Linked DNA regions of Homo sapiens: region 1 is linked to region 2. Evidence: fine-mapped expression QTL. A gene starts in region 2. The other region holds a variant in brackets. All regions are shown on one strand. Distances are between the middles of the regions.

Region 1 (16,675 bases), 110 kb before region 2:
TACCTGATGAGGGTTGAGATACCATCAGATCTTTCAAGAAGCTCTCTTGCCATTCTCTTAGAGTTTTTTTTAAAGCCTTGGTTCCCCTCTAGCACTGGAAATGGTAGCTATGTGTCTGCCTGCTCACTAAGTGCAAGTAATTGGTGATAACTCCAGCCCATTGCTGAATGTGAACTTGAGAAAAGAAGGCTGATTTTTCAGGCGTACCATCCCTCTTAAAACCCTAAGTTTTAAGTTGGTCAGAGGATAACCTTTGCAATGTAGACACTAGAATTTGTTCAAAAAGGGTGAATAGGATCTTTTTTAAAAAATGTAATATATAAAAACCTTTTAAATTATTAGATTGTCTCATTTTAAATGTTTTCCCCATTTTGTGGTTTTTAAAAATTATGGTAAAATATACGTAACGTAAAATTTACCATTTTCTACATTTTTAGGTGTACAGTTCACTGGCATTAAATACATTCATATTGTTGTGCAACCATCAGCACCATCCATCCAAAGAACTTTCATCGTCTCTAATTAAAACTCTTCTCTACCTGTTAAACAACTCCTCATTTCCCATTTCCCCAGCCCCTGGCAACTCTCATTCCATTTTCTATCTCTATGAGTTTGTCTACCCTATGTACCTTACATAAATGCAAATAACCTCTTAGTTAACGTGAAAATTAGTAAAAAGAGATGTGACTATATAGAAAAAACATGTAATTGTGTTTTTATGTGCAAATGCGACGACAGTGTGTGTGTGTGTGTATATATATATATATGCTATTTTGCAACTTCCTTCACTTAGCAATATAGTATTGTTATTTGTTATCTAATGCTGCATAACAAATTGCTCCAAACCTTGGTGGCTTAAAACAACATTTATTATCTCACAGTTTCTATGGATCAGGAATCTGGATGTGGCTTTGTTGGGGCTCCTGTTTCAGGATCTCTCAAAAGGCTGCAAGTCAAAATGTTGCCCAGCAGGAGGATTGCTTGAGCCCAGGAATTTAAGGCTGCAGTGAACTATGATCACACCACTGCATTCCAGCTTGGGTGATAGAGTGAAAGCCCAGCTCAAAAAAAAAAAAAACAGGCCGGTGGCTCACGCCTGTAATTCCAACACTTTGGGGAGGCTGAGGTGGGCAGATCACTTGAGGCCAGGATTTCGAGACCACCCTGGCCAACATGGAGAAACCCTGTCTCTACTAAAAATACAAAAATTAGGCCAGGCACGGTAGCTTATGCCTGTAATCTCAGCACTTTGGGAGGCTGAGGTGGGTGGATCACTTGAGGTCAGGAGTTTGAGATCAGCCTGGCCAACATGGTGAAACCCCGTCTCTACTAAAAATACAAATATTAGCAGGACGTGGTGGCATACACCTGGAATCCCAGCTACTCGGGAGGCTGAGGCATGAGAATCACTTGAACCTGGGAGGTGGAGGTTGCAGTGAGCTGAGATCGCACCACTGCACTCCAGCCTGGGCGACAGAGCGGGACTCAGTCTCAAAAAAAATAAATAAATAAAATAAAAATAAAAATTAGCCAGGCATGGTGGCAGGTGCCTGTAATCCCAGCTATTCAGGAGGCTGAGGCAGGAGAATCGCTTGAAACCCAGGAGGCGTACATTGCAGTGAGCAGAGATTGTGCCACTTTACTCCAGCCTGGGTGACAGAGTGAAACTGTCTCAAAAAAAAAAAAAAAAAAAAGAAAAGAAAAGAAAAGGAAAGGAAAAGAAAAAGTGTCGCCTGGGACTGCAGTAGACTCAGGCTTGCTCATGTTGTTGGCAGAATTCACCTTCTCCCAGGCCATTGGACCACGGAGTGCAGTTTTGCTCTGGCTGTCTGCTGGAGGCCACCCTCAGTTCCTTGCCACATGGACTTCTCCATAGGGCAGTTCACAACATGGCAGCTTGCTTCATCAGAAGGAACACAAGAGTCAGAGAGTGAGAGTAGAGTGAAAGTCAGTCTCTTATCATCTAATCTCAGAAGTGACTCTCTATCACTTTTGCCATATTCTACTTGTTAGACGCAAGTCACTAGGTCCAGCCCACACACACAAAAGATGATACAACGGTGTTAATATCGGAGGCAGGAATTGGGAGCCACTGTAGAAACTGCCTACCACAAATATCTTTCTGTTACCAGCATATATCTCAACTTCATCCTTTTTTTTTTTTTTTTGGTAATAGTTACTCTTTTTTTTTTTTTTTTTTTTTTTTTGAGAGAGGGTCTCTGCAGTACAGCGGCACACTCACAGCTCACTGCAGCCCCAACCTGCCAGGCTTAAGTGATCCTCCTAGCTCAGCTTCCCAAGTAAGTGAGACTACCGGCACATGCCACCAGGCCTGGCTAATATTTCTATTTTTTGTAGAGACAGGATCTCGCCATGTTGCCCAGGCTGTTCTTGAACTCCTGGACTCAAGCAATCCACCTGCCTTGGCCTCCCATAGTATTGTGATTACAGGTGTGAGCAACTATGCCCAGCCTACTCTATTTTGAGATAAATGTCTGCAACTTAAAAAATTTGTATAAAGATGAATATACCTCTGCATCATGGAGAAGACTGCAGAGAGCCTACTATCCTTAACCTCTTCCTTGAAGGATAAACATAAATTCATCAAGAAACAAAGTGGGGAAGGTATTCCAAGGAAAGAAAAAAGCACATGAAAATGGGTAAAAAATGGAAGGATGCATCATGGTGGGTGTAGAGAAACAGGAAATTTTTTCTTTTCTTTTTCTTTTTTTAGATGTGGATTCTTGCTCTGTTGCCCATGCTGGAGTGCAGTGGCATGATCATAGCTCGCTGCAGCCTTGATCTCCTGGGCTGAAGCTGGCCTCCTGCCTCAGCCTCCTGAGTAGCTGGGACTACAGGCACGTGCCCACATCCAGATAACTTTATTTTTTTGTAGAGACGGGATCTTGCTACGTTGCCCAGGCTAGCTTTAAACTCCTGACCTCAAGTGATCTGCCTGCCTTGGCCTCCCAAAGTGTTGAGATTACAGGTGTGTAAATCTCTAATGCCTGAGATTACAGGCATGAGCACGTCTGGCTGAAAATTTAAATATGGTTTGAGGAAGGGGTTCAGGCAGACGAGATTTACAAGATTTGGAAATAATAGCAGCATCTAACATGTGCCAGGCACTGTTCTATGCATTTAATGTGTAATAATTTATGTAATTCTTACAACAACCCTATCAGATACAGTAGAATTATTGTGCTAATTTTCCACCTGGAAAACAGACACAGAGAAGTAAATAAACTTGTCTGATATCACATAGCTATTAAATGACAGTTTGACTCCTGGCAGTTTGACTTCACTGCTAGGTTCACTATCTGCCTTTCTTTTATTTATTTAATTTTTTTTAAATAGAGACAGGGTCTCACTATATTGCCCAGGCTGGTCTCAAACTTCTGGGCATAAGTGATCCTCCTGCCTTGGCCTCTCAAAGTGTTGGGATTACAGGTGTGAGCCACCATGTCTGGCCACTATCTGCCTTTCTCTTAAAAACTTTGTATGCCATGGTAAGAAGTTTAGATTTTAATTTTAGGTAACAGGCTGGGCGCAGTGGCTCACACATGTAATCCCAGCACTTTGGGTGGCTGAGGCAGGCAGATCACTTGAGGTCAGGAGTTCGAGACCAGCTTGGCCCACATGGCAAAACCCTGTCTAGGCTAAAAATACAAAAATTAGCCAGGCTTGGTGGCAGGTGCCTCTAATCTCAGCTACTCAGGAGGCTGGGGCAGGAGAATCACTTGAACCCAGGAGGCAGAGGTTGCAGTGAGCTGACATTATGCCACTGCACTCCATCCTGGGAAACAGAACGATACTCTGTCTCAAAAAAAAAAAAAAAAAAAAAATTGGAACAAAGAGCCAATGATTTTTAAGCAAAGGAATGGCTTTATTAGATTAATTTTGGGGGAAGATTACTTTGGTACCAGCTTTGAGGGTTAACTAGTAGAACAAGAAAGTTTATAAGGAGAACAAGGAAGAGACTATTCCTATGATTCAGAGATGAGGAGGACCTGAATTCATGACAGGTGGCAGTGAATACACAGATCAGGATTAGTGTGCCATTTCCAAAGTAAATGAATAGGATTTGGTGCCCAGTTGGATATAAGGATTAGGGAGGAGTCAAGGACAACAAGTCAAGTTCGAGAATCTTGCAGAGCATCCAGGTGGAGCTGTCAGTCGCAATACTGCTGGGGAGAGAGATATGGCTAAAGATACAGATTAGTGAGTCATCCACTTCACTGGTGGTAATTAAAGTCTATGGGAATGGATTGCTCAGGTTAGCTGATCCAAAACAGAGCCTTAGGGAACACCAGCATTCAAGCAATGGGCAGAAGAAGAGAAATAGCCCATGAAAATACAGAGAAAGATGGGTAAAACAGGTAGGAAGATAATTAAAATACTAAACAGAAAGCAATAAATACCATAAAAGAGGTACAAACAAAGTAATGTGGGAGTTCAAAGTAGGATTACAACTTAATCTGAGTCTCTGTTAACTCACCTGTAAAATCAGGTTGGACTAAGTGATCTCTGAAATCACTTTTGTCTCTAAACCTTTGAATCTATTCAGTGTCTACCATGTGCCCATTAACATGATAGATGCTATGGAAAGAAAGGCACAACCCCTACTCTAGAAGAGCTTTCTTAATTTAGTTTTTTGTTTGTTTTTAGAGATGGAGTCTTGCTCTGTCACCTAGGCTGGAGTGCAGTAGCGCAATCCTAGCTCACTGCAGCCTTGAACTCCTGAGCTCAAGCGATCCTCCCACTTCAGCCTCCCAAGTAGCTGGGGTTACACACACGCACAACCATGCCTGGTTAGAAGAATTTTCGGTTTACTGGGGAGCTTAGTCTCTGCACAGCTACTGAAACAAAACAAAACAAAAAAACTGGACAAACAAAACCCACTGGAGATGGAGATCATTTATAATTAAGGGTTGAATTTTGTGGCATAGCCTGTGGGCTGCAATCCAGAGAAGGAAGGTGTAATAATATGTGTATAGAAGCTTCGTGGAGGAAGAGAGTGGACTTGGGCTGGATTCAGATAGAGAAGAATAATGTGGGCAGAAATAAAGGTATGAGTTCACCTACCTGATAACTTGAAGACCTCGGCTGGGAATTCATGGGAAGTAAGGTTTTAGATAGGTAGCACAAGGCCTACCTTACTAATCAACTTATATAACTTAGTTGGGACTTAGAATAGACATGGAAGCAGTGGCGAGCTACTGTAGGTTGTTGGGCAGGTTTGTGATGTTTATTGTACGGGATATATTGATAGCTATTTTTATTGCACAAAATGTCTATCGCTATGATACGTTTTCCCATCGCCAATTTCACACTACAGTGGCTGCTGTGGTGTGCTGCCCAGATCACCTCGCTCCAGGTCTGATGCATGCATGCATGCCCCCACCTTCTGGGAGAGTAGACGGCTGGCAACTCTCAACTAAGTCCTTCTCCAGGACTTGCGCTCAGCTGAACAGAACCACTTTGCCTAATGTCCCACCACCTTACCAGGAGCAGTGCACATTAATGACTGGTTGATGAGCTTTACAAAGGCCCAGCCTCCCCACCCCAGTTCAGAAAAACCTTGAAGTGTCCTCCCCCTAGCTTCAGAGCCTCCTGGCTGAGGCCTTTGTTGCAAGTGTAGCACAGTTCATCTCCTGCTCAATCCTGCTTCCTTTGCTCTCAACAGGTGTTGATCCCAAGAATACTTCCTAATAAACTTCCTACATTCTAATTTCCATCTGTTTTCTGGGGAATCAAACTGAAACATACATGATAATTACGTTCACTCAACTTTTCACTCAACTTTTCATCTATGCTACTCAACTTTTTCATCTGTGGTACTCAACTTTTCATCTATGCTACTTAACAATTAAACTGTAGAAACATTTTATGAGCCCAGATTTTGGCGTGAGGAATGTTCTTTAACAATTTTGACATTTGTAGTTTAGAACACCAAGATCTACCTTTTATAAAACCTGCACTCTCTAAAATCGCACACCCATTTTGGCACTATACATTCAGTTCAGTTTTTGTGGAGACAGTAGTAGATACAAATAGCTAAGCATATGTAAGGAATATCAATCAAAAGGAAATAATGAATTGGTGGTAACTATGTCTTAGCAGGATATACCATAGGTTGATGGAGTGCATTGCTCAGTGTCTTGTATAGTAATACTCTTGGAGACACCAGGTACTCCACGGAGGTAGTCCACAACTGGAAATTTTACAGAGTGTTGTTTTGGATCACAAAGAAACTGTGACACCATTTGATTTTTTTTTTTTGCGTTTATCCAAAATATCTTAATCTATATACTTGGCACTTAGCACTACTTAAAAAAAAAATCACCAACTATGACACTATCAGGCAGCTCTCAGCTAAGCACATTACTCTCCTTTAGTTTAAAAGCTTTAGAACAAAGTTCAGAAATTTAAAACTTGGAATAAAAATGGGCAAAAAAAATTGTAAAGTTGGTGGTAATAAAGTGATCAGCATTGTTAGAATGGTTACCTCAGAGTGTTCAGAACATCAAAGTACCCCTGCAAAACATCTTGCTGAGACAATTGGTCTTGCAGCTTTTTTGGGGGGCGGGGGGGATGGAGTTTTGATCTTGTTGCCCAGGTTGGAGTGCAATGGCGTGATCTCGGCTCACTGCAACCTCCGCCTCCCAGGTTCAAACGATTCTCCTGCCTCAGCCTCCTGAGTAACTGGGATTACAGGTGCTGGCCACCATGCCCAGCTAATTTTTGTATTTTTAGTAGAGATGGGGTTTCACCGTGTTGGCCAGGCTGGTCTTGAACTTCAGACATCGTGATCCACCTGCCTTGGCCTCCCAAAGTGCTGGGATTACAGGCATGAGCCACTGTGCCCGTCTGGTAGCTCTTAAGAGGGAAAGATGAAGGGTGAAAAACGAGAAATTGTCCGTCTATATTTCCAATGGTCTATGTCCTTTTAAAATTTTTAATTAATTAATTTTTTTTTAAAGACAGGATCTTGCTCTGTTGCACAGGCTGGAGTACAGTGGCATGATCATGGCTCACTGTAGCCTTGAACTCCTGGGCTCAAGCAATCCTCCCACCTCAGTCTCCCTAGTAGCTGGGATTATAGGCATGAGCCACCCTGCCTGGCTCCTACATCACTTTTTTGTCCTTATGACATCGGTTTTTAAAAATGTCCTTTCCTCTGTTTGCAAAGGGCAAAAATAAAACCATAATAAAAAATAAAGTAAAATGTACTTTCCTCAACACGATTAAGAGATACAGTTTTAGAGACAAATAACATTCAGTGCTCACTGAAATTATCAAATTTTTAATATGGAAATAGATGGGTTTATATGGCATTCTTTATAATACAACAAATTCTGTAAAGGGAAATATATTGAAAATGCTGGGTCTGTAATTGACAGATTGCCAAAGAATAAATTATATCCTGTGCTGTAATTATGTATTCAGCAATAATGAATACTAGGAGAAAATAGCAAAGTAGTAATTATACCAATTACAATTGATTAGTTGGTATTAACATAAAAAGATGTGCTCATTGTGTTATACTCTATTATGTCACAAAAGGCTCTGATGTATTAAAGATAGTTGATTTCTTTATAAAGTCCCTTTTTATAATTGACTAAACTCAGTGAGTTTGGAAGGAAACTGGGAATTTGTATAATTACTCATGATAAAAATTTATTATGCTACAATTTTCATTGTTTTATGCTACTGTAGTTTCTAATTTTCTAATCTGTTTTTCCTGTGTTATTGGTATACTAGCACTGCATTTAAAAAAATGGAACAAAGTAATCCAAAAGAATTGTAATAACTAGAACTCATAAGTATCCACTATTGTTTATTTTTTGTTAGAAATTGAGATTTAAGGTGGCAAGGTAATTGCTACTCTATATAAAGTAGAGCTCTGTTTCTTTACAAATCTCCAAAGTGTGAATTTAACAATTTAGCAGGACTAATTATTTTAGACTTCTGGTGAGTTGGACGCACTTCATAATTTTAACAATAAAAGTGAAGTCTATGTGGGATTAAATTTAAACTCTGAAAAAAATGCAAGGATCCTTCAATATATGAAACATCAGAGTAAATTTAATTATCTCAATTTTCTCAAGTCATGTAATGGAAAGCAGGCAGGTATAAATTGCTGCTGCATGGGTAATTTATTTCACTTTTTAATGACCTTGTGCCCTCTATGGTCAAACAAGAATACTACAGGAAATAAGCAGG[C/A]CCTCTTTTAAAAGTAGGAGAGCATAATAGATAGCAGACTGAAAAGAAGATCTTGAAACTTAGTGAAAAGCCCAAAATAGAAAATAAGCCAAATAACATTTAAGTGTGACTAAGAAGATGTTCTTAGGGCTAGTTTTAGTGAGTGGTAAAATTTAATTGTAATTATAAGCAAAAGTCTAATATATATGGCCATTGACAGAATTCAATTTAAGACCACTTTGTTGTACACACATCAATAGCGTATTCCTTTGAATGCATTTAGTTGTAAAGTGTGGAGGAAGAAGGGAACACTGAGCTAAGATGAAGCTGAGCTTTTTATTATCCTGAATTATGTACCCTTAAAGTCCATATCTAAATTCCTTGACCAAATGTTTTTAAGATCTAGAGAAAAAAAAATATGTTAGAGAAACTGTTGGCTGAGTGTGGTGGCTCACACTTGGAATCCCAGCACTTTGGGAGACCAAGGTGGGTGGGTCACTCGTGCCCAGGTGTTTGAGACCAGCCTGGGCAACATGATGAAACCCCATCTCTACAAAAACCAGAAATATTAGCTGGGCATGGTGGCGTCTGCTTGTAATCCCAGCTACTCGGGTGGCTGAGGAGGGAGAATCACTTGAGCCCGGGAGATTGAGGCTGCAGTGAGCTGAGATTGTGCCACCACACTCTAGACTGTGCAACAGAGTGAGACCCCGTCTCAAGAAAAAAAAAAAGATTTCTGGTTGGTAAAATGTGGTAACTAAAAGCAGAACTTGAAAGTTGCACACATCACTTCAGTTCCTATCTCATTGGACACAACCTAGTCACACAGCATATGTACATGGTTGGATGGGAAGCTAGCAGTTAAGTTTTTAGTTGAGCATCCATATGCCCAGCTAAAACTTCTATTATTATAGGAGAGGATAACATATATTAGAGGGGCAAGTATGTAGTCCCTGCTACAGTAAGTCACTGAGACAACAAGTTCTGGGTTTACCCCTTTCCTTCTCAAAGACATGTAAAAATACAACCAAGTGAGATATGCATAGGGATCATCTTGAATCTGTATGATATATTTAGAAAGAAAGTTATTAAAAACTGCAGGTTTTGGCTGGGTGTGGTTCACACCTGTAATCCCAGCACTTTGGGAGGCCAAGGCGGGTGGAATACTTGAGGACAGGAATTTCAGACCACCCTGGCCAACATGGCAAAACCCTATCTCTACTAAAAACACAAAAATTAGCCAGCCGTGGTGGCATGTGCCTGTAACCCCAGCTACTCGGGAGGCTGAGGCAGGAGAATTACTTGAACCTGGGAGGCAGAGGTTGCAGTGAGCCAGGATTGCACCATTGCACTCCAGTCTGAGTGACAGAGAGAGACCTTGTCTCAAAACACAAAAACGAAACTGCAGGTTATTTATTTATTTATTCATTTAATTTTTTTTTTTTTAAGATAGGGGTCTTACTATGTAGGTCACAAGCTGGTCTCAAACTCCTGGGTTTCAGCGATCCTCTCACCTGAGCCTCCCAAAGTGCTGGGATTATAGGTGTGAGCCACCGTGCCCAGCTAAAAACTGCAGATCTTAAGTTACAGTGAATAACAAATTACTTGGCCCACATCTCTCAACAAACCACAATAGCCAGCTTATTGACTTTTATGGCTATTTCCCAGCACAAACTATGAAACAGACAGACCATCCCAGTTCTCCACTACTAAAATTATGCCATAATAAATATAACCTATTATATTTTTCTTTAGAAAGAAAAAAATCCTAGGGAGTAGTTGGGTGAACTGTTTATCATACTGGGCCAGCTAAGTGAAAGGGGTTACCTCTCTCTCTCTATTTTATAGAGACGAGGTCTTACTATGTTGGCCAAGTTGGTCTTGAACTGCTGGCCTCAAGTGATCTTTTCCCCTCCACCTCCCAAAGTGCTAGGATTACAGGCGCGAGCCACTGCTCCTGGCCAAGGGGTTGCCTCTTAACTCAGGTAAGATCCAGGGTGTAATAGACATGTTGTCATTATCTGCCCAACTACTTCCTCTCCTGATAGAAGCGCCATCCTATCTTACTTTGGGGAGCTATTACTCCAATCCAATCAACTGCCAAGCATAGTACTCTACCCTCAATTCTACAGGTATATGATCGATATCTGGCCAATCACAGTGCCCCCAAGTCCTAGCTATACTTCTGACTCTAAGGACTGAACGTGAAATTTAGAGCACATCAATCAAAATCCTCTGAAATAATATATACTGATATATTTGCTTCCTTCTAAGGCTGCTAAACTGAGATGATGTAAGTCTGGAGCTGCCTGTGGCTTTGGCCTCTGTTGTATAGAGGAAGCCTATTTGTAGGAGACAATATGGCCAGAAAGAGAAACAGAGAGATGAAAAACAGGACGACACGGGATCTCTGGAATTATTTTTTATATTTTATTTATTGAAAAAAAATTTTTTTTGAGACAGGGTCTCACTTTGTCACCCAGGTTGGAGTCAGCTGTGTGATCATAGCTCACTGCAGCCTGAAACTCCTGCCTGAACCTCCCCAAAGTGCTAGGATTACAGGCATGAGCCACCATGCCCAACTGGAATCCCTGGATTTAGTTGACGATGCAGCTAGTTCCACCTCTGTGCTTACAAATTAAATGAACCAATAAATCCCCCTTTACTGCTTAAGGTAGTTTTAGTTAGCTTTCTGTCACTTGCAAACAGACTTCTAATATCCAGAAATAGACTTCTAAGGATAGAGGAAGTGAAGTGGGTCTAATATAATAAATCTTAGTTCTCAGGGTAGAAAGCAGGGTGAAACAGAAATAGAAACTTCTGTTCATGAACAGGTTTACAGAGTGTCCCATTAGTCCAACTTATTTTTGATTCTATGGTATCCAACAAATTTGTATTGAAATTAAATGAAATGTGGTTTCTGTGTTCTTCTGGCACTAAATAAACATAGTACCTTGAGTGGCAGTCTTATGAATAATTTTCATTTTCTTTTTATCTGCATTTTCTGATTTGCCTATAATAAACATATGTAGATTTTTCACCATGTTAAATCAAACATTTATCATTATTCTTTATCAACTATTGTATTAGTTTCCTCAACATTTATCATCACTCTTTACCAACTATTGTATTAGTTTCCTATCAGTGCCGTAGCAAATTGCTATAAAGTGGGTGGTTTCAAGCAAAACATATTTATCATCTTACAATTCTGAAAGTCAGAACAAAGTGGGTCCGCAAAGCAGTTTCTCCTGGCCAACACTCTGATGGGAGATTTGTTTCCTTGCCTTTTCTAGTTTCTAGACACCACCTGCATTCCTCAGCTCATGGTCCCCTTCCTTCATCTTTAAGGCCTGCAGGTTAGCAACCTTTCTCCTCTCTAACCTTCCACCTTCTACCTCCCTCTTAAAAAGACCCTTGGAGGTCCACTCCAGACCCTGTTTGCCTGGGTATCAGCAGCAGTGGCCGCAGAACAGCAAATGGTGCTGCCTGATCATTCCTCTGGAAGTTTCGTCTCAGAGGGGTACCTGGCCGTGTGAGGTGTCAGTCTGCCCCTACTGGGGGGTGCCTCCCAGTTAGGCTACTCAGGGGTCAGGGACCCACTTGAGGAGGCAGTCTGTCCGTTCTCAGATCTCAAACTCCGTGCTGGGAGAACCACTACTCTCTTCAAAGCTGTCAGACAGGGACATTTAAGTCTGCAGAGGTTTCTGCTGCCTTTTGTTTGGCTATGCCCTGCCCCCAAAGTCTACAGTAACCAAAACAGTATGGTACTGGTACCAAAACAGAGATATAGACCAATGGAACAGAACAGAGCCCTCAAAAATAATACCACACATCTACAACCATCTGATCTTTGACAAACCTGACAAAAAAAAAGAAATGGGGAAAGGATTCCCTATTTAACAAATGGTGCTGGGAAAACTGGCTAGCCATATGTAGAAAGCTGAAACTGGATCCCTTCCTTACACCTTATACAAAAATTAATTCAAGATGGATTAAAGACTTAAATGTTAGACCTAAAACCATAAAAACCCTAGAAGAAAACCAAGGCAATACCATTCAGGACATAGGAATGGGCAAAGACTTCATGTCTAAAACACCAAAAGCAATGGCAACAAAAGCCAAAATTGACAAATGGGATCTAATTAAACTAAAGAGCTTCTGCACAGCAAAAGAAACTACCATCAGAGTGAACAGGCAACCTACAGAATGGGAGAAAAGTTTTGCAACCTACTCGTCTGACAAAGGGCTAATATCCAGAATCTACAAAGAACTCAAACAAATTTACAAGAGAAAAACAACCCCATCAACAAGTGGGCAAAGGATATGAACAGACACTTCTCAAAAGAAGACATTTATGCAGCCAAAAGACACATGAAAAAATGCTCATCATCACTGGCCATCAGAGAAATGCAAATCAAAACCACAATGAGATACCATCTCACACCAGTTAGAAGGGCCATCATTAAAAAGTCAGGAAAACAACAGGTGCTGGAGAGGATGTGGAGAAATAGGAACACATGTTGGTGGGACTGTAAATTAGTTCAACCATTGTGGAAGACAGTGTGGCGACTCCTCAGGGACCTAGAACTAGAAATACCATTTGACCCAGCCATCCCACTACTGGGTATATTCCCAAAGGATTGTAAGTCATGCTGCTATAAAGACACACGCACACATGTTTATTGTGGCACTATTCACAATAGCAAAGACTTGGAACCAACCCAAATGTCCAACAATAGACTGAATTAAGAAAATGTGGCATATATACACCATAGAATACCATGCAGCCATAAAAAATGATGAGTTCATGTCTTTGTAGGGACATGGATGAAGCTGGAAACTATCATTCTCAGCAAACTATCGCAAGGACAAAAAACCAAACACCGCATGTTCTCACTCATAGGTGGGAATTGAACAATGAGAACACGCGGACACAGGAAGGGGAACATCACACACCGGGGCCTGTTGTGGGGTAGGGGGAGCGGGGAGGGATAGCATTAGGAGATATAACTAATGTAAATGACGAGTTAATGGGTGCAGCACACCAACATGGCACATGTATACATATGTAACAAACCTGCACGTTGTGCATATGTACCCTAGAACTTAAAGTATAATAAAAAATATATATTAAAAAAAACCCAAAAACTTGATATGTATCCAAATTTAGCATGCACCATTTTCCTTAAACTTTACTATGAGATCCTGAAAAAAAAAAAAAAAAAGACCCTTGGGATTACATTGGATCTACCCAAATAATCCAGGATAATCTCACTTTAAGAGCCTTAATCACATGTGCAAAGTTCTTTTGCCATGGAAAGTAACACATTAACAGGTTCCAGGGATTAAGATCTGGACATCTTTAGGGGCCATTTTGCAGCCTTCCACAACTATCTACATGTAAATGAATATGAAAGGTAATTAATATAAAAACTGTGAAGTAAGCACAGCCTACCTTTGTAAATAAAAGGCACAATTTCAATGGTTGGATGAAAGCTCCCAAGGAAAAATAAGCTGGTCTGGCTTCAGCTTCCCTGACAGTCACAAAGCCTATTCTGGGGAAGTGAGGGAACAAAGCTTTAAGTGATTTCTTGGAAACAAAGGGCTTAATATTGTTGGGGTTTCTGGCCAGGCTGGAACATGCATTTGGCAGGCATAAATTCAGGGATGAACTCCTATGAATTTTCTACTTGCAAGCTCTCCAAGAGTAGGTACATAGTAGAACATTTCCAGCAGGTCAAAGAAGGAACAGGAACTTCATTAGAACACAGAACACAGTCTTGGGGACTCGGGAGAAAGGGTGGGAGTGGGGCAATGGATAAAAGACTACAAATGGGGTGCAGCATATACTGCTTGGGTGATGGATGCACCAAAATCTTACAAATCACCACTAAATAACTTACTCATGTAACCAACCACCACTTGCATCCCAATAACCTGCGTGTGGTGGGGAAGAACACGGTCAGATTGTGGGCCAGTTTTCCCCTGGGCTGTTTCTCAGTGTAAAATGATGGTACAACGATAGCAGCCATCTTTGTGATGACAGCTCTCATGAGCCACAGTGTTCCAATCTGAACCCGTTGCCTTCTACGGAGTGTACATATATAATCCTGACAGACAGCCCTTCACCAAGCTCTTTGGAAGAGTCCCGTCACTGCTTCCCTGTGTTTGGCTGGAAGAGCACACATCCTTCAGCAGCCCCTTGAGAAATGATATTCAGGAAGTAAATGCTTTTGAGATCTCATATATCTCCAAGTGTCTTTATTCTACCATAACCCTTGGCTTATAATTTGGCTATGTAAAGAGTTCTAGGTTGGAAATAATTTTTTGTAAGAATTCCAAAGGCACTTCTACATTATCTTCTTTCTAGCTTCCAAAGATGTTGTTGAGAAGCGTGAAGACATTTTGATTCTTGATCCTTTATATGTAACAATCCGCCCCTCCGTCCCCCCTACACGCCTGCAGAATCTTCGTGTGCTTGGGTGTTCTCATATCTCACAAGTAACATGCTCCGGAGTTGGTCTATTTTCATCCATTGTGCAGTGACCTTTTGACTCTGGAAATTCTATCAATCAATCAGTTCTGGAAAATTCTGAATTATTTTGATGACTTCTTCCCTCCTGTTTTCTCAGGTTATTCGGCTACTGACTTTCCAGACCAGTCCTCCTATTTTCTCTTCTCTGTTTTCCATGTTTGTCTTTGTTGCCTCCACTTTCTTTGAGTGTGTCAACTTTAATTCCTAACTTTCCCATTGAATTTTAATTCCTGCTACCATATTTTTTAATTTCGACAAGCTGTTTTGTTCTGTTTCTTAATAACATCTTATATATTATTATGGCTGCAGTATCTCCTCTGAGGATTTTTTTTTTGAGACACGGTCCGGCTCTGTCACTCAGGCTGGAGTGCAGTGTCACAATCATAGTTCATTAAAGGCTTGAATTCCTGGACTCAAGCAATCCTCCTCCCTCAGCCCCCCAAGTAGCTGAGACTATAGGCGCACAACACCATGTCTGGCTAATTCTTTTATTTTTTGTAAAGATGGGGGTCTCACTACGTTGCCCAGGCTAGTCTCAAATTTCTGGGCTCAAGTTATCCTCCCACCTTGGCCTCCCAAAGTGCTGGGATTTAGACATGAGCCATCACACCCAACCTGAGGATATATTTCTTAAAAACAATTTTTTTCTTCTTGCATCATCTATTTCTCCATAGTCTTTCCCAGATTTGTTTTACTCCTTATCTTTCACAATGTAGAACTGCCTTATCTGGTGATCCTCAACTGTCTATTCATGTTTAAAAGTCGGGAGCTAAAGCACGGTTTAGAAGCTGTGTTGGTTGCGGGGTGGTTTGTTGAGCCTCTCTGCTCTGTGTCCTGGCTTGGTCATTTGTTGGGAAACTCTCAATTTCAACAACTGTAGTAGGTCTTTTCTCTTAGGCTGGTCAGATACTCCACAACTCTTCCAATTTCCTTCTGAGAGAAGTTCGAGGGTGGGCAATGAAGAGATGGATGACAACACTCCATATGCGTTCATTCCTACAATCCCTATCTTCAACACAGAAATGTGGCTCTCGCTAGGCGTGGTGGCTTACACCTGTAATCTCAGCACTTTGGGAGGCTGACTTGGGCAGATCACCTGAGGTAGGGAGTTTGAGACCAGCCTGACCAACATGGAGCAATCCCGTCTCTACTAAAAATACAAAATCAGCCGGGCGAAGTGGCACATGCCTGTAATCCCAGCTACTTAGGAGGCTGAGGCAGGAGAATTGTTTGAACCCAGGAGGTGGAGGTTGCGGTGAGCCAAGATCAGACCATTGAACTCCAGCCTGGGCAACAAGTGCAAAACAAAACAAAACAAACAAACAAAAAGAAATGGGGCTCTCAATTGTATTAAGGTACTTTCGAAAGTACTAACCATTTATCAATATCACAGATCAAAAAGTTCTAGGTTTATTTTGTATTATAATGAACATCCTTTTATTTTTTCAAAATTGAAAAATAATTTTTAGATTTTTCAAATTTATATTTATCAGTTATTGAGATGAACACCTCTCAGTAATTTTTTTTTTTTGAGACAGAGTCTAACTCTGTCGCCAGGCTGGAGTGCAGTGGTGCAATCTCGGCTCACTGCAACCTCTGCCTCCTGGGTGTAAGCGATTCTCCTGCCTCAGCCTCCCGAGTAGCTGGGACTACAGGCGCATGCCACCATGCCCAGCTAATTTTTGTATTTTCAGTAGAGATGACGTTTCACCATGTTGGCCAGGATGGTCTCGATCTCTCGACCTCGTGATCTGCCCACCTCAGCTTCCCAAAGTGCTGGGATTACAGGTGTGAGCCACTGACCTTGCAATAATTTTCAGTCAGTCTTTATACATTAAGACTACCTTGCTTCGTTTGAGACAGGGTCTTGCTCTGTCACCCAGGCTGGCGTGCAGTGTCACAATCATAGCTTATGGTGGCCTTGAACTCCTGGAC
Region 2 (16,675 bases):
CGGGCGTGGTGTCTCATGCCTGTAATCCCTGCACTTTGGGAGGCCGAGGCAGGCAGATCACAAGGTCAGGAGTTTGAGACCAGCCTGACCAACATGGTGAAACCCTGTCTCTACTAAAAATACAAAAATCAGCCGGGCATGGTGGCTCGCACCTGTAATCCCAGTTACTCAGGAGGTTGAGGCAGGAGAATCGCTTGAACCCGGGAGGCGGAGGTTGCAGTGAGCCGGTATTGTGCCACTGTGCACCTGGGCGACAGAGCGAGACTCCGTCTCAAAAAAAAAAAAAAAAAAAAGAAAAGAAAATCCTCCTTATTATCTTCACTACCTAAAAGCACAGTACAACTTACAATATCAGCGACCCCATCGATTTGGATTGCAAAATCTGCACCAGACTCTACCCATCTTGCAAGCACTGCTGAAATGTCCAATAATGGTAAAGAATAGAGCTATGTCATCACTAAGAAGTATAATTTTTAATTTCCAGCTGATTTAGCATCAAAAATCATGAGCACAACTTCCATGAATTATAGATGAATACTTTTTTCAAGAGATATGTAGCCATTTTTCCCTTATGCCACTGATACACAACTAAATGAGACAATAATCTTTCTCAGGAATGATTCTTGAATAAATAGGAAACTGAGATAACTTTATCTCTTTTTCTTTCTTTGAAAATATTTGAAAGGGCTTATTTAAAAGTCCAGTATGCTATGTTTCCAAGAATCTTTTTAACTTTAAAGGTTTTTAATTTTCATTTGCAACATTATATGAAGACATGGGTCTGTCATTTTACTCAGATTTTGCCCATTTGACAAAGCCATATTTTAAATAATCTTCATTGAAAGTCTTAATAGTTTTTCTCAGGTGACCATTTCCCTCAATATTTTTGTTCTTCCAGATCCAGTCATTGCACATACCTCTGTATTTTTTACTTCGTTTTTTTCTTCTAATAATGAAACAACAAATTTGAAAGGCAAATTGATCCAATTTGATTTAAAAATACAATTATCACCAGACTCTTGAAAATATCACACTTGACGAATGCAAAGTTCAAAAATAAAATTTGGTTCAACGACTCACCATTTTTAACAACAGCAGACAAAATTCTCCCACTCTTTGCTCAACCCTGATTTATGTCAATAAAACTATACATTGATAGCTATCACATTACACTCATGATTAAATTGACCATCACTCTAATTCACATAATTTTCCCCTTTTGTTCCAATTACCCCTTATAGTTTAAATAGGGCCCAGGGAAAAGGAAATTTTCAGTAAATACTGTTGTGGAGCAGCCTATGTCATTTCCTCACAGAAGGCTCTATTATTATAGCCTTAATAGATCCTTATTTAATCAGAATATCAAAGAGTACAGATAAATATTTAAATACAAAATTATGCTTTACACTGCTAAGTAACCAATTCAAACACATCCCACACAGCTGGGAGATTTTGTTTTTTACTCCAACAGAAAAAAAGACAGAGAAAAATGCAAATCCCTTTTAAGTAGCAGCAAAAATAACTCTCTCTCTCCCCCACCAATCTGTCCCTGAATTTTAACATCCAAACAAAAAATCCGCAAATATGTCATTTCTATGAATTCAAACTTGAAGGAAAAAAAATAATAATTTCTCTCCATATCCTTTGTTGTAAATATTTATCACTGCTATGAAAACTACGAAAGTTAGACATTTAACTTTAAAAAGTACAGCACAACCTTCAAATAATATAAATGGATTAATATTGCCAGAACTAAATGCTAAAAACTCTGTTTTCACGCCACTAACCAGAAGTCTAAGATTCATAAGAAAAAAAAAAAAATCTTGAATTTATTCCTCAAAAATAGGGGCCAGGCATAATGGCTTCGTACCCCCAGCGCTTTGGGAGGCTGAGATGGGAGGATCCCGAGGTCGGGAGTTCAAGCCCAACCTAGACAACGTATTGAGACCCCATCTCTACAAAAAGTTTTTTAAAAAATTAGCCAGTCTTGGTGGCGTGCACCTGTAATGCGAGCTAACTGGGAGGCTGAGGTGGAGGGATCGTGTGAGCCCAGGGGTTGGAGGCTGCAGTGAACTATGATTGTGCCACTGCACTCCAGCCTGGGTGACAGAGAAAGACCAAGAAAAGAAAAGGAAAAGGAAGAAGGAAGAGGGAAAAGGAAAGGGAGGAAGGAAAAAAATGGGTAAATACCTGGAATAGATAGATGTGAAAAAGTCAGTCCTTTAAATTTTTTTCTCTTATCATCATCTACTTAATCCTTCAGTCTTATAATTTGCTATACTGCTTATAAAGTGAAGACATTATCATGTTTTCTTTTCTTTAGGATAAAACTTATTCATTCAGGGCAGAAGAAAAAGAGAATAAAATTCCATCCTGTCCAACCCTCTGGGAACCAGTGCAGAATACCCCTTCAAATTTATCTTTTATTTCACCCAGGTTTCAATGTCCCCACTTTCACTGAAGCGAAAAGATCAATGTTTTATTGATTCAGTAAAGAACACTGAATATCAAAAAACATTTTTCAAACATACTTTTTTATTCTGACTCTGTACAAGTTAATCTATTTCTCTGTATCTAAAGTTCCAAACCAGTAAAGGGAGTATTTTCCATTTAAATGAGAAATGGGGGATGAATGAAAATGTTTTAATTATTTTAAGAAATGTACTAGAATTTAAAAACAGGAGGTATGATTTCGAAGAACCATGATTTTTTTTTTCTAAACCAAGCTTACGAATTCAAATATTTCAAAGATCCGTTAAGGTTGGCAGACTATGGCCTACCTGTGGGCCAAATTTGGCCCACTGCCTGTTTTTGCAAGGCCTCTGAGTTAAGAGTGGTTTTTACATTTTTTAATGGTTGGGTGGAAAGATCAAATAAGTATAACATTTTGTGATGTGAAAATTATATGAAATTCAAATTTCAGTGTCCATAAATAAAGTTTTATTGGAACACAGTCCATGCTTATTCATTGAAGCGTTGTCTATGGCTGCTTTTTGGCAGAATTGGGTAGTTATGACAGAGACCGTATGGCACACAAAGTACAAAATATTAATATTTGCTATCTAGCCCTTTACAGAATATTTGCTAACCCCTGCCTTAGAAGACCATACTGCTATTCTTTTTTTTTTTTTTTTTTGTCTTGTCACCCAAGCTGGAGTGCAATGGCACGATCTTGGCTAACTGCAATCTCTGCCTCCCGGGTTCTAGCAATTCTCCCACCTCAGCCTCCCAAGCGGCTGGGACCACAGGCATGTGCCACCATGCCAGCTAATTTTTTAAAATTTTTTGTAGAGACGAGGTCTCCTTATGTTGCTCAGGCTGGTCTAGAACTCCTGGGCTCAAGTGATCTTCCCATCTTGGCCTCCCAACGTGCTGATTATAGGCATGGGGACACAGTCTTTTGTTGTTTTTTAAGCTTTGTCTATGACTTCCAAGAACTAAAGATCCAGTGATGGGATAGGAATATGCTTTCGAAGCTTTGATTGATTGTGAACGGAAGCTGGGCACAGTGGCTCATGCCTGTAATCCTAACACTTGGATAGGCTGAGGCAGAAGGAGTGCTTAGGCCCAGAAGTTTAAGATCAGAATGGGCAACACAGTGAAACCCCATCTCTACAAAAGAAAAAAATTTATGTATTTATTTATTTATTTAAATTTTTTTGAGATGGAGAGTTTCGCTCTTGTCTCTCAGGCTGGAGTACAATGGCACAATCTCAGCTCACTGCAACCTCCACCTCCTGGGTTCAAGTGATTCTCCTGCCTCAGTCTCCCAAGGAGCTGGGACTACAGACACGCGCCACCACATCCAGCTAATTTCTGTGTTTTTAGTAGAGATGGGGTTTCACCATGTTGGCCAGGTGGGTCTCAAACTCCTGACTGAAGTGACCCACCGCCTTGGCCTCCCAAAGTGCTAGGATTACAGGTGTGAGCCACTGTGCCTGGGCAAAAAAAATTGTTTTTTAATTAGCAGGGGGTCAGGCCGGGTGTGGTGGCTCACACCTGTAATCCCAGCACTTTGGGAGGCCAAGGCGGGTGGATCACCTGAGGTCAGGAGTTCGAGACCAGCCTGATCAATATGGTGAAACCCCATCTCTACCAAAAATACAAAAAATTACCCAGGCATGGTGGTGTGCGCCTGTAGTCCCAGCTACTTGGGAGGCTGAGACAGGAGAATCACTTGGACCTGGGAGGCAGAGGTTGCAGTGAGCTGAGATCACACTACTGCACTCCAGCCTGGGCAACAGAGAGAGACTCTGTCTCAAGAAAAATAAAATAAAAAATAAAAATTAGCAGGGGGTGGTGGTGCATGCCTGTAGTCCTAGTTTCTCAGGAGACTGAAGCAGGAGGATCCCTTGAGCCCAAGAGGTCCAGGCTGCAGTGAGCTATGATTGCATCACTGTATTCCAGCCAGGGTAGCAGAGCAAGACCCTGTCTCTTGAAAAAAAAAAAAAAAAAGTAAATAAGTTATATGTGCCATGCAAATAAAGAGACAGAAAAACAATTCCATAATAAAGCCAGAAGATCTACGTTCTTGTGTAGCTGTGAATTTGCTATAAAGCTTTTTACAAAGAGAAGCTCCAATAATACTTTGGGCAATACAGACAGTCCCTGACTTAATGATGGTTTAAATTAACAATTTTTCAACTTTATGATGGTGCCAAAGCAGTATGTGCTCAGTACCCTCCTTAACTTATGATGGGGTTACATTCGGATAAACCCTTCGTAAGTTTATCACATGTTGACTAACAATATTTTCAACTTATGATGGGTTTATTCAGACATAACCCTATCGAAAATTGAGGAGCATCTGTACTTCTGGAATAAATGAGTGACTTCCAAATGAAATTTTAAAAGAACAGGACTCATTTGGATGTAAAAGTTGTTCAACTTTCAATTAAAATCCATTTCATTGCTTTATAATAATAATTTGTTGGACAAAATTAGCATAGATAAATAATTCCTTCTACTTACATAAAGCAAATCATTTATTCTTGGCCCTCTTCTCTTCTAATTCTACATACTCCCTTGAGCAATTTCATCTGCTCTTACGGCTTCAATTAACACTTACTGGCTACCTCTGAAATCTGAATCACCAATTTTAGCCTGGCTTCTGGACTCTAGATCCTCTCTCGACATCTCCACTTGAATGCTCCAAAGACAATTCAAACTCAACATGAATTCAAAATGGAAACAATTATCTTCCTCCAATATTAAAAAATAAAACAAGACCCTTCATCCAAACAGTTTTCCAAGCTAAAAAACTAAGTCATTTACTTTTCTGTTCCTCTTTTGAGCCAATTGATTTTAAAGCCCTGTCAAATTCTACACCTTCACTATCTATCCTCTCCTCTCCATCCCTATTACTATTTTCCTACTCCAGGCCCCTATCCTCCCTTATCTGGACTATTTCAATAGCAACAGCCTCCTAACTTATCTCCCTACCTTTTGTCTCTCTTCATCCAATTCAGCCTCCAAACCATTTTCAGCTTATCTTTCCTAAACACCTATATCTAAAATCCTTCACTGGCTCTCCATTGTCTTTAGAATCAAGTCCAAAGTCCTTAGCACGATACTCTGGCTCTTCAAGACCTAGCATCAGAAGACTTTTTTCCCTCTTTTTCTGAATCATAACTTTTTTTTTTAAAGACAGTCTCACTCTGTTGCCAGGCTGGAGTGCAGGTGCACGACCTCAGCTCACCGCAACCTCTGACTCCCTGGTTCAAATGATTCTCCTGCCTCAGCCTCCCAAGTAGCTGGGATTACAGGCACACGCCACCACACCCGTATAATTTTTGTATTTTAGTAGAGATGGGGTTTCGCCATGTTGACCAGGATGCTCCCGATCTCCTGACCTCTTGATCCACCTGCCTTGGCCTCCCAGAGTGCTGGGATTACAGGCATGAGCCACCACGCCTGGCCCTAAATCTTAACTTTTTACTTACCTAAGTCTGTAATGTTATCTTATATCTTGTACTTCAAAGTATTAAAAGTACCTTTAACACCATATTTTTTAGTGAAACATTCTGCCAAACTGAACTAATTACTCATTTCATTGTTCCAAATGAAGGGAAGTGAAATACCACATTACCTAGCAATTTTAGTGATCCTAATGCAATCAGCAAGGAAGCTTTGCAATTTTATTTTTTCATCTTATTTCCAGGCACCATCTCCTTTAGCCAAACCACCCATTTCTACACACCCTGGCCTTCAGTACAATGGACTACAACACATTCCTCAAACATACCATATACTTGCACACTTATCCCTGGTTTTCATTCATATCTCCTGTTTCCTGACCCAATTTCAGCAAACTCCTATTCATCCTTCAAAGCCAAATTTAATATCTTCTCTCTAATCGTCCTCCCTACCACACGCAGAATGATTTTTCCTCATCAGTGGTTAAATTCTATCTATACTTCTTTCTTTTTCTTGCAACTCTTCAAACGTACCTAAATCTATACTTCTTTACAGCTCTTATCATGCTGAAATTGTAGAGCCTTATTTACATGTTGGGTTATAAGCTTCTTAAAGACAGGGAAGCATTTTCTCTTCTTGAATCTAATACTTAATTTACAGTCTGAGAACAGATATTTTTAACTTCTTAATGAAAGAAGTTATGAGGTGCTTTTTAATGAAAAATAAGCACCTCATATTGTTAAGATAATGCCATAACTGTTGTTACTGAGGGACTGAGAGCTTAGAATCATCCCCATGTCATTCACTGGCAACAATAACAAAAAAAGGGTTCCCACAGATAAACTATAATTACATCGTTTTAATTGCAATAAAACTGGTATTGCAATACCAGTTTATTTTTTCCTCTTTCTTTCCTTCTTTTTGAAATAGTTTTTTATAGACCTCTTTTTAAAATACCTATTAGATGTCATTTGTATCTCACTCACAGAATTTGAAACTCAGTATAGCGCAAAGGTTACAATCAGGTCCTTGGAGAATGACTGATTTGAATCCTACTTTTGCTATCTAGGTTGTCTAATCATGGGCAAGTTACTCAACCTCTCTATGCCTCTTAATGAGATAATCATAATAACATCCCTCATGGTGCTGTTGTGAGGATTAAGTAAGCTAATACATGTAAAGAATTTAGAATACTGCCTGGCACAGACTAGGTACCAATGAATGATAGCTGATGTTGTTATTGTTACCATCCGCTTTAAAAACAGCTTTTGTTTTTTCAGTACTTATTTTAGCCCACTTGGTAGAATGGAATCTCCTAGATGACAGGAATTACATACTGCTCTTACATAAATATAATCTTGTGCCTATTGTGTAGTAGGCCCTCAAAAAACAATGTGAATGTAAGGTTTCAGACCTCCAAGATCAAGAAATTGTAAATCACAGAAAAATTTATACATGGAGTACGTTTAAAACTCATGTTTTAAAGTAGCTTCAAAAGACCCATCCTCCACTGAATTGCTGAAACATGTTTAAGTAAAACTTCTAAAGCAACACACACAAAAATTACATTCACTAGTAACTTTCCCTCTACTACTTCATTTAATTTGATCTTGGTATCCAGTGGTCTAAAATTCTTGCCTATAACTTAAGACTCACTACAGACCATTTAAAAGTAATATAATTTCCAGCTTTAGAAAACTGCTTATTGTCATTAAGAAAAATAAATATTCTTCCTTTATTGCTGCATTTAAAAAACGTACTGCCACATTCAACACACACACACACACACACACACACACACACACCCCAACTAATGAAAGACCAAGACACATAATTACTACATTTCCTGGTTTCTGCCTGGCAAACTCAGAACAGGCCTACAAGTATCCCCAGCAAAAGCCTACAGGTTACAAAACTGCCATTTTCTTTTTTATTTCCCATCTCCCCGCTAAAATCCCTCGCACACATATCCATAGTAAAGAACAAAAACGTCTATAATAAAGGCTGTATGAAAAAATATGGCTATATATTAACAATATTTTGGAAGATTTAAATCTTCCTATAAGCAGCCCGTCAATTCACAAAAACAAATTAAAGTCTTGATTTGGAACAATATTCCCAGCTTACTTTAGCAGGTATCTTAAACTACAACTATTTAGCTAAGACAAAGAAGTAGATTATTTGATTGCTACAGACTTCGCGGTAAATGATTCAGCAACAGTGTATAGATAACACCACTGTGCTATTCTAGAAAATTTCATCAATCATTTAAAAATAGGACACACTCAAACAATGGGGGTCACTTTGTGGGAAAAGTTTAAACAACTTATTTACACAGTAAGCAAGGATCTATCACTTTATCTAAAACACTGCAGAAGAATCACTAGCTTTAGGGTAAACGTTTGTAAAGTGCCTACTATGTACCAGGCAAGTAGTAGTTGCTTCACAGAATATACACGCTCCACACGCACGTTCAAATATCTGACATTTGTAGAATACTGTCACTCATCTGATTTGACCCTGAGAATACCCATAGGCATGAACTTGCCAGTTTCACAGTTACGGAAAGAGAGGCCCAGGAAGTTAATTTGGCCGAGGTATCACATCTGGTTCCGCGGGTTCTGGCCCTAGACTTGAGCCTTTTGACTCATAATCTAATCATCAGCTGCTATACAGCTCTAGTTACTCAAAAGCTCTTAGGTGTTCCACTGTCAGACTTTTAAATTAAAATTCTACTTGACAACTTTCGGTATTGTGCGTATTAGATGCTGTTAAGAATCAAAACACCAAAAAAAGCAAAATATTGTTTGGAAGTGCATCGTCCCAGCATGTCGAAGTTCAAGCTCACTGGCTAATTTTGGAGAAAGCCCGCGTTTCCCCAGGCTGCCGGGCGCTCCCTCCCTCTTCCCCAGCAGAGAGCGGCGCCCAGCCTAGGGGTCCCCAAGCCCCTGAGGTAGCGAGGAGGTCTTCAGCCAGGCTCCGCCACAACCCGTGCGGCCACGAGAGGACGTCCCAAAGCTGGGCCCAACAACCGGTTGCTCCTCCGGACGGAGGAGGTGCCGAGACAGCGGGGCGCGGAGACACCACCTCCGCCAGCTCGGCTCGCACCGTCCGAGGACTACGCCGCGGCGCCACAGCCCCGCACCCGACGCCCAGAAGGGTGATGCCGACAGCCCCGAGAGTCCGAAGCCCCTGCGGCTTAAAACCCCGCGCCGAATCACCCCGACTCTTACCTGTCTGTACCTCAACGTTGTCTCCTGTGGCCAAGCTAGTCTCCCGGGTATCACTCGGGTCCGCTCCGTCCCGCCCCCGCAGGCCCTGCCGAAGGCCCCGTCCCGGCTGCAGCCCCACCCCCTAGCCCCGCCCTCCCTGGCAAGGCTCAGTTCTTATTGGCTCCTATTCCCACCCCTCACGCTATGCCCGCCTCCGACACCGCCCCGGCCGGCGGTGAGGGGAACCACCACGCCTCAAGTCCGCTGTATGGCCAGAACCTTGCCAGGACCTCGGTCACTGCAGTTCCAGCAGGCGGGCGACCAGTGTCACCGTCGTCCGGCCAAGCCCTCGAGCCAGAGCTCCATCGCCTTCGCCTGCCGTCGCATCGGCCCCACGGAGACGGCCCTATGCTTCATGTGAAGGTTTACTCTTCACAACTACTCAACAAGATAAAGCCTGGCTTAATCAGGGAATCCAAGCACTGTTTCCTAGGCTGACCTCAGTGAGCAAACAATTGCACTACGGTGCCAACTTGAAACGTCAAGAGAAGCAAATAACTCTCGCGGCACCTCAGGCTTGGAATCTCAGAACGGGGGTGCCTTGATACTCCCAGTGCGTGAGGTCAGCCCCCACGCCCTGTTGAGACACACATGCCTAAGCGCTCCGCCTGCAACACGCTCTTGCTTAGGTATGTGCGTGGTGTTGTGCCTACTGCAAGCTGTAACCCAGTTTCACCGAGGCTGCGGGACAAGGATCAGTTGAGCCTGTTTCCCAGGCACTCGCTAACCACCCCACCCCGCCTCGCCCCGCCCCACCCCACCCCACCCCACCCAGCCAGAGCCTCTTGGGTCTGGTGACCAAACTCTTCCTACATTTGTTCACACAGAGGTACCAAAATAGAAGACTACCAGAAAGAGAGGTGTTTAGTTACGTATCACGGATGACTGTCACAAGCAAACTTAACCCAAACAATAAAGGTAGCATATCCCAAACCGTTGTGAAACTATCACCTGTAGACAGTAAAACAGAAATTACATTCTATGATGGGGGAAAAAAAAGTAATGACATACTTAAAAAAAATCATGTCCCAATGAGGAAATAAATGTGGATATTGTTTGTAGTAAATTTTGCACACTGATCATTATGGGCTTCCCCCACCAAAAAAAAAAAAATTCTTATATAATGTGTCTATCTATTTATTTATTGAGACAGGGTCTCTTTGTGTCACTCACACTGGAGTGCGGTGGCCCAATCATAGCTCACTTGAAGTCTCAACTTCCTAGGCTCAAAGAATCGTCCCACCTCGGCCTCCCAAGCAGCTAGTATTATAAGCATGCACCACCACCCCCGGCTAATATTTTTATTTTTATTTTTTTGTAGAGACAGGGTCTCGCTATGTTGCCCAGGCTGGTCTCCAACTCCCGAGCTCAAGCAGTCCTCCTGCCTCAGCCTCCCAAAGTGCTGGGATTACAGACATGAGCCACTGCACCCAGCCCAGAAATGTATTTTTTGACCCCTGCATTCAGGAAGATTATTTGGCAAAATAAGGCAGGTTGAATTCCAAGTATCACGTATGAAACCAAATTTATAGATTAATAAATGAATTCACATGTATGTATTCTACTGCCCTCTCATGGGTAAGATGGAGATATACATAATGGTAGTTAATGCCCTTTGAAGTCTGAGAATACAGTGTTTAATGTAGCAATTTGTACTATTTTGATGATGAGGAGGCCAAGGTAAAATAAAATCTGGTTCTTTAAAGGGTTCACAAATACTCAACAAACAAAACTTCAACTTCAGAAATCAGGAAGAGATTCTTACACCAGAGCTAGTACAAACATGCCATCAGGGTTACACCTATGCTTATGGCTGCATGTGTAGAATATAGAAACGTGCAGAAATTTGCTTTCAATTTTTTTTCCATTTGAAAGTTCAGGCTGGGCACAGTGGCTCACGCCTGTAATCCCAGTACTTTGGGAGGCCAAGGCACATGGATCGCTTGAGCATAGGAGTTTGAGACCAGCTGGGGTGACATGGTGAAACCGCGTCTCTACAAAAGGTTCAAAAAAGTAGCTGGGTGTGGTGGCATGTGCCTGTAGTCCTGGCTACTCGGAAGTCTGAGGTAAGAGGATCACCTGAGCCTGGGAGGCCGAGGCCGCGGTGAACTGTGATTACACCACTGCACTGCACTCCAGCCTGGGTGACAGAGCAAGACCCTGTCTCAAAAAAAAGAAAAAAGTTCATTACTTTTGAAGACATTTCACAAAATTCTATTTTTTACTTGTAGCCACACTATAACTTCATGCTGAGGACAACTAGAGGATAGGAATGAAATCTTATTCTGTATACCTTTGGTGTTTAGAATAGTACCTGATAATTTAGCTATTTGATCAATAATTGTTTATTGAATAAGTTGAATGAAATGTCAGCCCAGCCACTAGATGCCAACACAGTTGTATGTGTGGAAGTATCATCTGCCCATTTGGAATTTCACCTGACCTTAAGTAATAGGCATGCTTCTTAAAAGTTATATGTACATTTTACTTTGGTAAGCAAAATCATTTAAAATGTACCAGTTTAGCTCACTATAATCTTATTGTCAATTACATCCTTAAAGCTAAGAATCCTTTTGTAAGATAAATTCTCCCTCAATATAATAACTCATAAATACTGATTTTCTATATTGAGGTACGCCCTCTGGTTTTGTCTAAAAAAGCCACTATTCACTTATACCTTGTCAAAGAACTTTTTAGTGGTTCTAAGTGCCTTAAGCAAATTTCATGCTATAAACCAGAAGCCTATCTCCCAAAAAGTCATTTGCTTGTATTTTTGCCCAGCTTTAATAGATATTTTGCCTGAAAGTCATAGAGACTGCAGTCAGAGAAACCCACGTTCCCACTGCTACCCTTCACCAGGTATATCCTTGTGCAGGTTATTAACCTTATTAGCTTTAGTGTACTAATTTCCCCCAAAATGGAGATAATAATATCTACTTTATAAAGGTTGTGAGAAGGATTAAATGAAATAATTTCAGTGGAACATCTAATACTTTCCTTGGTTTATAGTAGGGACTCAATAACAGGTAACTATTATTATTCAAACTCTACAATGAAATTCTCACTCATATTATTATTTGGTTTACTTTTTTTTATTCTGTTGATTTAAGACCCTCAGCAATTAAATTGAGTTCATAACACCAGGTTTCATAGCGATAGGCCATGCGGATTTGGGCTACATTTGTCCTCCGGATATCATTTCCAGCAGGGCCTTCCTCAAGGTAATTGTCGCCCAGAAACTTTACTTTCTCCTATAAGAGAAAAGGATGGCAGAATGATTGTTGTCTCTTTTCACCCTGGTATAGACAATAATTGCATTCTTTACAAAAATTCCTTCCTTATGTTAGCCACTGACAAAAGAATAATAATAATAGACCATTAAAAGCACCCATCTAGTGCCTCAGTGTTCACAGTCTGCTGAGAAATCAAGTGTATTTTACTTCCCTGGCCCAAAAGGCACAGGCAAAGAGATAGAATAATCCCTTCTAGTCCCTGTCCATAGTAACTGCATATGATTCGTGGAACAATTTTTCTACATGTGTTTCCCAACTACTTTTTCGGTATTCAAGTTAGCAGACCCTATACTCAGAAGGGAAGCCATTTGAAGACAGGTCTACCTCATGAGAAATTCCACACTGCAAGACACTGTTCCTTGCCACTTCGCACATATCACAGGTGCTCAGCTTGAAGACTTGTGCAGCAATAGCATATTCTTCCATTAGGGGCTCCTGCAGTTATATTAAATGAGGAAAAAAGAGGAGTGAATTAATAAATAATATGCATCCTGCCTGAAAAAATAATGAAATACCTTTATTTGACTTTCAAATTCTGGACGGGAAACAACAGTCCAGCAAAATATGCTTGTATTGCCCAAGTCCATACTATACCTTGGTAAAGTGGAATTGCATTGGGTCATCTGTAGACAGTGAGATCATTAGCCCTTTCTGAAGGAAATCCAAAAAAGGATTTTTGGCATACTCTAGAAATAGGCTATTGTTACTTAGTGGTGACATGGCGATGGGAATTTGGGCTAAGAAAAACAAGTACTGTAGCACGGGACTCTGAAAAAGAAAAGTAAAAAAATATTTAAAGATGTTGAAAAAGGAATACAAACTAGAAACACTACAATCTCATGGTCTGCCTTAAGCTTCAGCTTTCAACAAAATTATCACTTGTTCTTCAAGTCTCTTAGTAAGGAGAATTTAGGAGTTTTTCAATGTAAATGCTATTTAGAATAAATGTACTTAGGATACATTAATTTTCAGAAACATTGAGTCAAACCAGATTGTTTATTTGATCTATAATGGCCTACGTTAGATGGTCTGTCTCAGGCAAAAGACTTTGCCTTGAAACATTATTTTTTCTCTCTCTCTCTACAAGAAAGTTCTGACTCTCACAAAAAAACATCTTGAAGCATGCTATAACAAGAAATCTGGCAAAAACTAGCTTAAGGAAAGCCAGGCCATCTCTGAATTATCCCTTGTCAGGATTCTAAGCTAGAAGTCAGGAGATCTGCGTTAACTTTTATCTGACAGCAACTAGCAAGGTAATCTTGAGCAAGTCCCTTTACTTCTTTCTGTAGAATGAACTGCACTAAACTAAAAAATCTTTTATGCTCTACTTGATTATGATTGCAGTGTCGATAATGACTTGTGACAGTATGGTTGGTTAAGGGAAAAAAGATTCCTCTAGCTCCAATGTAAAAGTTAAGAAGAGAGCTTCCAACTCACCTTTTTTAAATTTAGGCCATGAGAGATATCATCTGCTATCATGAATGCTGTCATGAGATGGGTGAGGGCTCCAGCTTCTCCACAGTGAGGTCGGAACAGAAACGTATTCATGCCTCGTTCCCTGGGGAAATAGAACTGCTATTGGAATCGCAGGTTCTGGGTATGGAGTGATTCACAAGAAAATTCAGTAGAAAAGTGAACACTCTGGAAGGAAGTAAGCCATCCAAAGGATTCAGCAAAACAGTCCCAAATCATAATCTTAATTCTTGCTAAATACAAAGTTTCCAAAAAGAGGCAGCAGAGGATATGGGGGTAAGGAAGCAAATAAAGTGTTGATTGCCTGGATGGAAATACGTTCAGTCTCAATAGGAAATTTACCAATATCAACATCTCATCATTTATTCTATTCTATTCAAATTTTAAGGGAGAAATGTTTCCAGAAAACTCCAGTATAATATTCCTCTACTTATTCCTTACCCAAATATATCAAGAAGGGCAAAATATATGAAGTTTTATCATTAATTGCACAATGATTAGTATAAATTCCTAAACTTCCCAAAAAAAAAGGAACTGTGAAAGTTATTGAAAGCATCGAAATACCGATTTCTGCCCCAAAATAAATAAACTGAAGAAAAAAGTTAAGAGAAAGAAATTTCTGATTTGGGCCAATTGGAACCATCACAGTAATGCATGAGGCCCCTGACCACCTTAATTGCCAATATATGTGGAAAGAGCTGTGTCAAATAGACCCTCCTAGCTCCAGCTGTCTCCTACTTACTTTCTCAGGCTGTTGAGCACCATGATGTTTGCATACATGTAGTAGGCATAGTAAGTGTAAGATGGATTCTTTTCCAATGTCCACTCCTGGGGCTTGGGACTCTTGGAGGAGAACATGTGGCCACTGTGTTTGGACTCATCATCCACACTGTCAAAGCCAGTGATCTGTTAGGAAAAGTGAGCCATGCAATGGGTTCAGTCCAACTTCAGGGTCCCAGTCCTCACACAAACTTTCAGGTCCAAAGGCACAGACCAAACATAAAGAGATAAGCACCAAGAATTAGTCATGACCAGGTAGGAAGGCTGGTTCATGAGCAGCAGTATGAAGGCCTGAAGGGTCATGCTTACATGCTTGAGGAAGACACTGAGTTCTGGGTCAGCCTGGGGGTTGATGGTGGCCTCAAACACTGGCATGAAAATATTCTCCAGCATTTTTCCAAAATGTGGAAGGAAATTCTTGGAACGGAACACATCACTAGAGGCAAGAATGAAGAGAATTTAGGAGAAAAAAAGATTTTTAGGACTGATAGCCCCAGTATGAGGGAACCAGAGAATCGAATGTCATGCACAGGAAAAGACGTGGTATATCTATCCTAGGTCCATGCTCCTCATACATTCTTTTTGGTCCCCTATAGAGAGGGATTCAGTTTGGGCAGCACATAGGAAATAAAAATTTTTTGGTGGACCCTATGTCCCCATCTTTTTTACAAACCTTTGTCATAAGAAAACTAAACCTTCACAGCTAAGTCCTCATAGAGGAATATGCAATTACGTCATAAAAGCTTCAATATATGTGTGTAACTACAAGACAGTGAACAGGAAATGATTACCAAGAATACCTCTGATCTGCAATTTAACAAACTCTGATATAGCATTTAATATATTCCAAGCACTCTTCTAAGTGACCAGAAATATTAGCTAATGTAATCCTCATAACAACTCAATAAGTTAGGTATTGTTTTTAACCTTGTTTTAGAGATGATGAAACTAAGGCACAATGGGGTGATATAACTTAACCCAAGGTAACACAGCTAAATGGTTGTGTTACCTTGATTTAAGTATTGCCAGGATTCAAGTATCACCACTCTGGGTCCAGAATCTATACTCCTAACCAACCTACTGCCTCTCTGCCTATTAGGAAGTATTATCCCAGTCAAAAAATTACTTTTTTTGGTTAAAGAGACAGGATGAAACTCTTGCATTGCAGTAGGTCACACAGAACACAAAGACAGGTAGCCAGAAAACATATAAACACCCAAGTTAGATAAAAGATCAATGATACTGAACAAACTGAAAGAGAAGCCATCCCTGAAGGCGATGAATGATAGCAGGTGGTATGAAAGGGAGATGATGTCCTCAGCAATACCATTGATAAATACTCATTGATTGTGGAGAACTTGAGCACTTGTAGGTGGGACAATTGACAGACAGTAGTAAAGGTTCTGATACAAGAAAGCCACATCCCAGTAGAGATGAGCATGGGAAGGAATGGACTTGACACAGAGAAGACCAGGTGAAAGAAAATGTATACCAAACTGTACATAGTTCTTATTCTATCTTAGTTTTAATCATTCTCAGTGAGTTATTTATGATCTTCATAAAGCTAGAGGACTGATCCGAAATGATCTTCTTAACTCCTGTCTGTGGTTAAGAGTGCTGTACCCAGAGTGGACAAAACCAAGCATGCAGGACCCGATAGTGAATGCTGTTTTAACAAAGCTGATTTATTTCTAGATGGGCAACACGTTCCTTGTTCATACAGGGGACTTGAAGCAGATGAGACAAGGGCAGGCTCTAGAGTTTCTGATGGGCAGGTACATACTAGATCCTGGGAACCTGGATCATCCATGTCATGTTGGGGCAGTGGATGCGATTGCAGACGAACCAGGAGGAGAGTTTGCTCCACTCATCAGGACTGCGGCCATAGATGGACAGGCGGGGCTCAGCATGCTGGTACTTGGCCTCCACCAGGTCCGCACC

What was found. PIP is the estimated chance that this variant, and not a neighbour inherited with it, causes the effect.
Region 1: its variant is fine-mapped to the expression of DENND2C in whole blood (TOPMed, PIP above 0.99). The same link has a PIP of 0.9 or more in T cells and blood mononuclear cells.

What each region holds. Positions count from the first base shown.
Region 1 is chr1:114,550,565-114,567,239 of GRCh38, forward strand. No RefSeq gene overlaps it. Among named protein-coding and RNA genes, the nearest start is that of BCAS2, 23 kb to the right of the region's middle. The variant C/A (reference allele first, on the strand shown) is at 8,227.
Region 2 is chr1:114,660,834-114,677,508 of GRCh38, forward strand. DENND2C (DENN domain containing 2C) reads right to left here and starts at 9,216. Exons shown (of 21, transcript NM_001256404.2): 1 at 9,150-9,216. It overlaps AMPD1 (adenosine monophosphate deaminase 1), which reads right to left. Exons shown (of 16, transcript NM_000036.3): 10 at 16,518-16,675; 11 at 15,044-15,170; 12 at 14,697-14,860; 13 at 13,919-14,039; 14 at 13,076-13,249; 15 at 12,806-12,916; 16 at 12,265-12,439. The coding sequence ends at 12,281. LOC124904354 (a long non-coding RNA gene) reads left to right here and starts at 9,578. Exons shown (of 2, transcript XR_007066465.1): 1 at 9,578-9,817; 2 at 10,016-10,121. RefSeq lists a silencer at 9,220-9,309 and an enhancer at 9,430-9,589.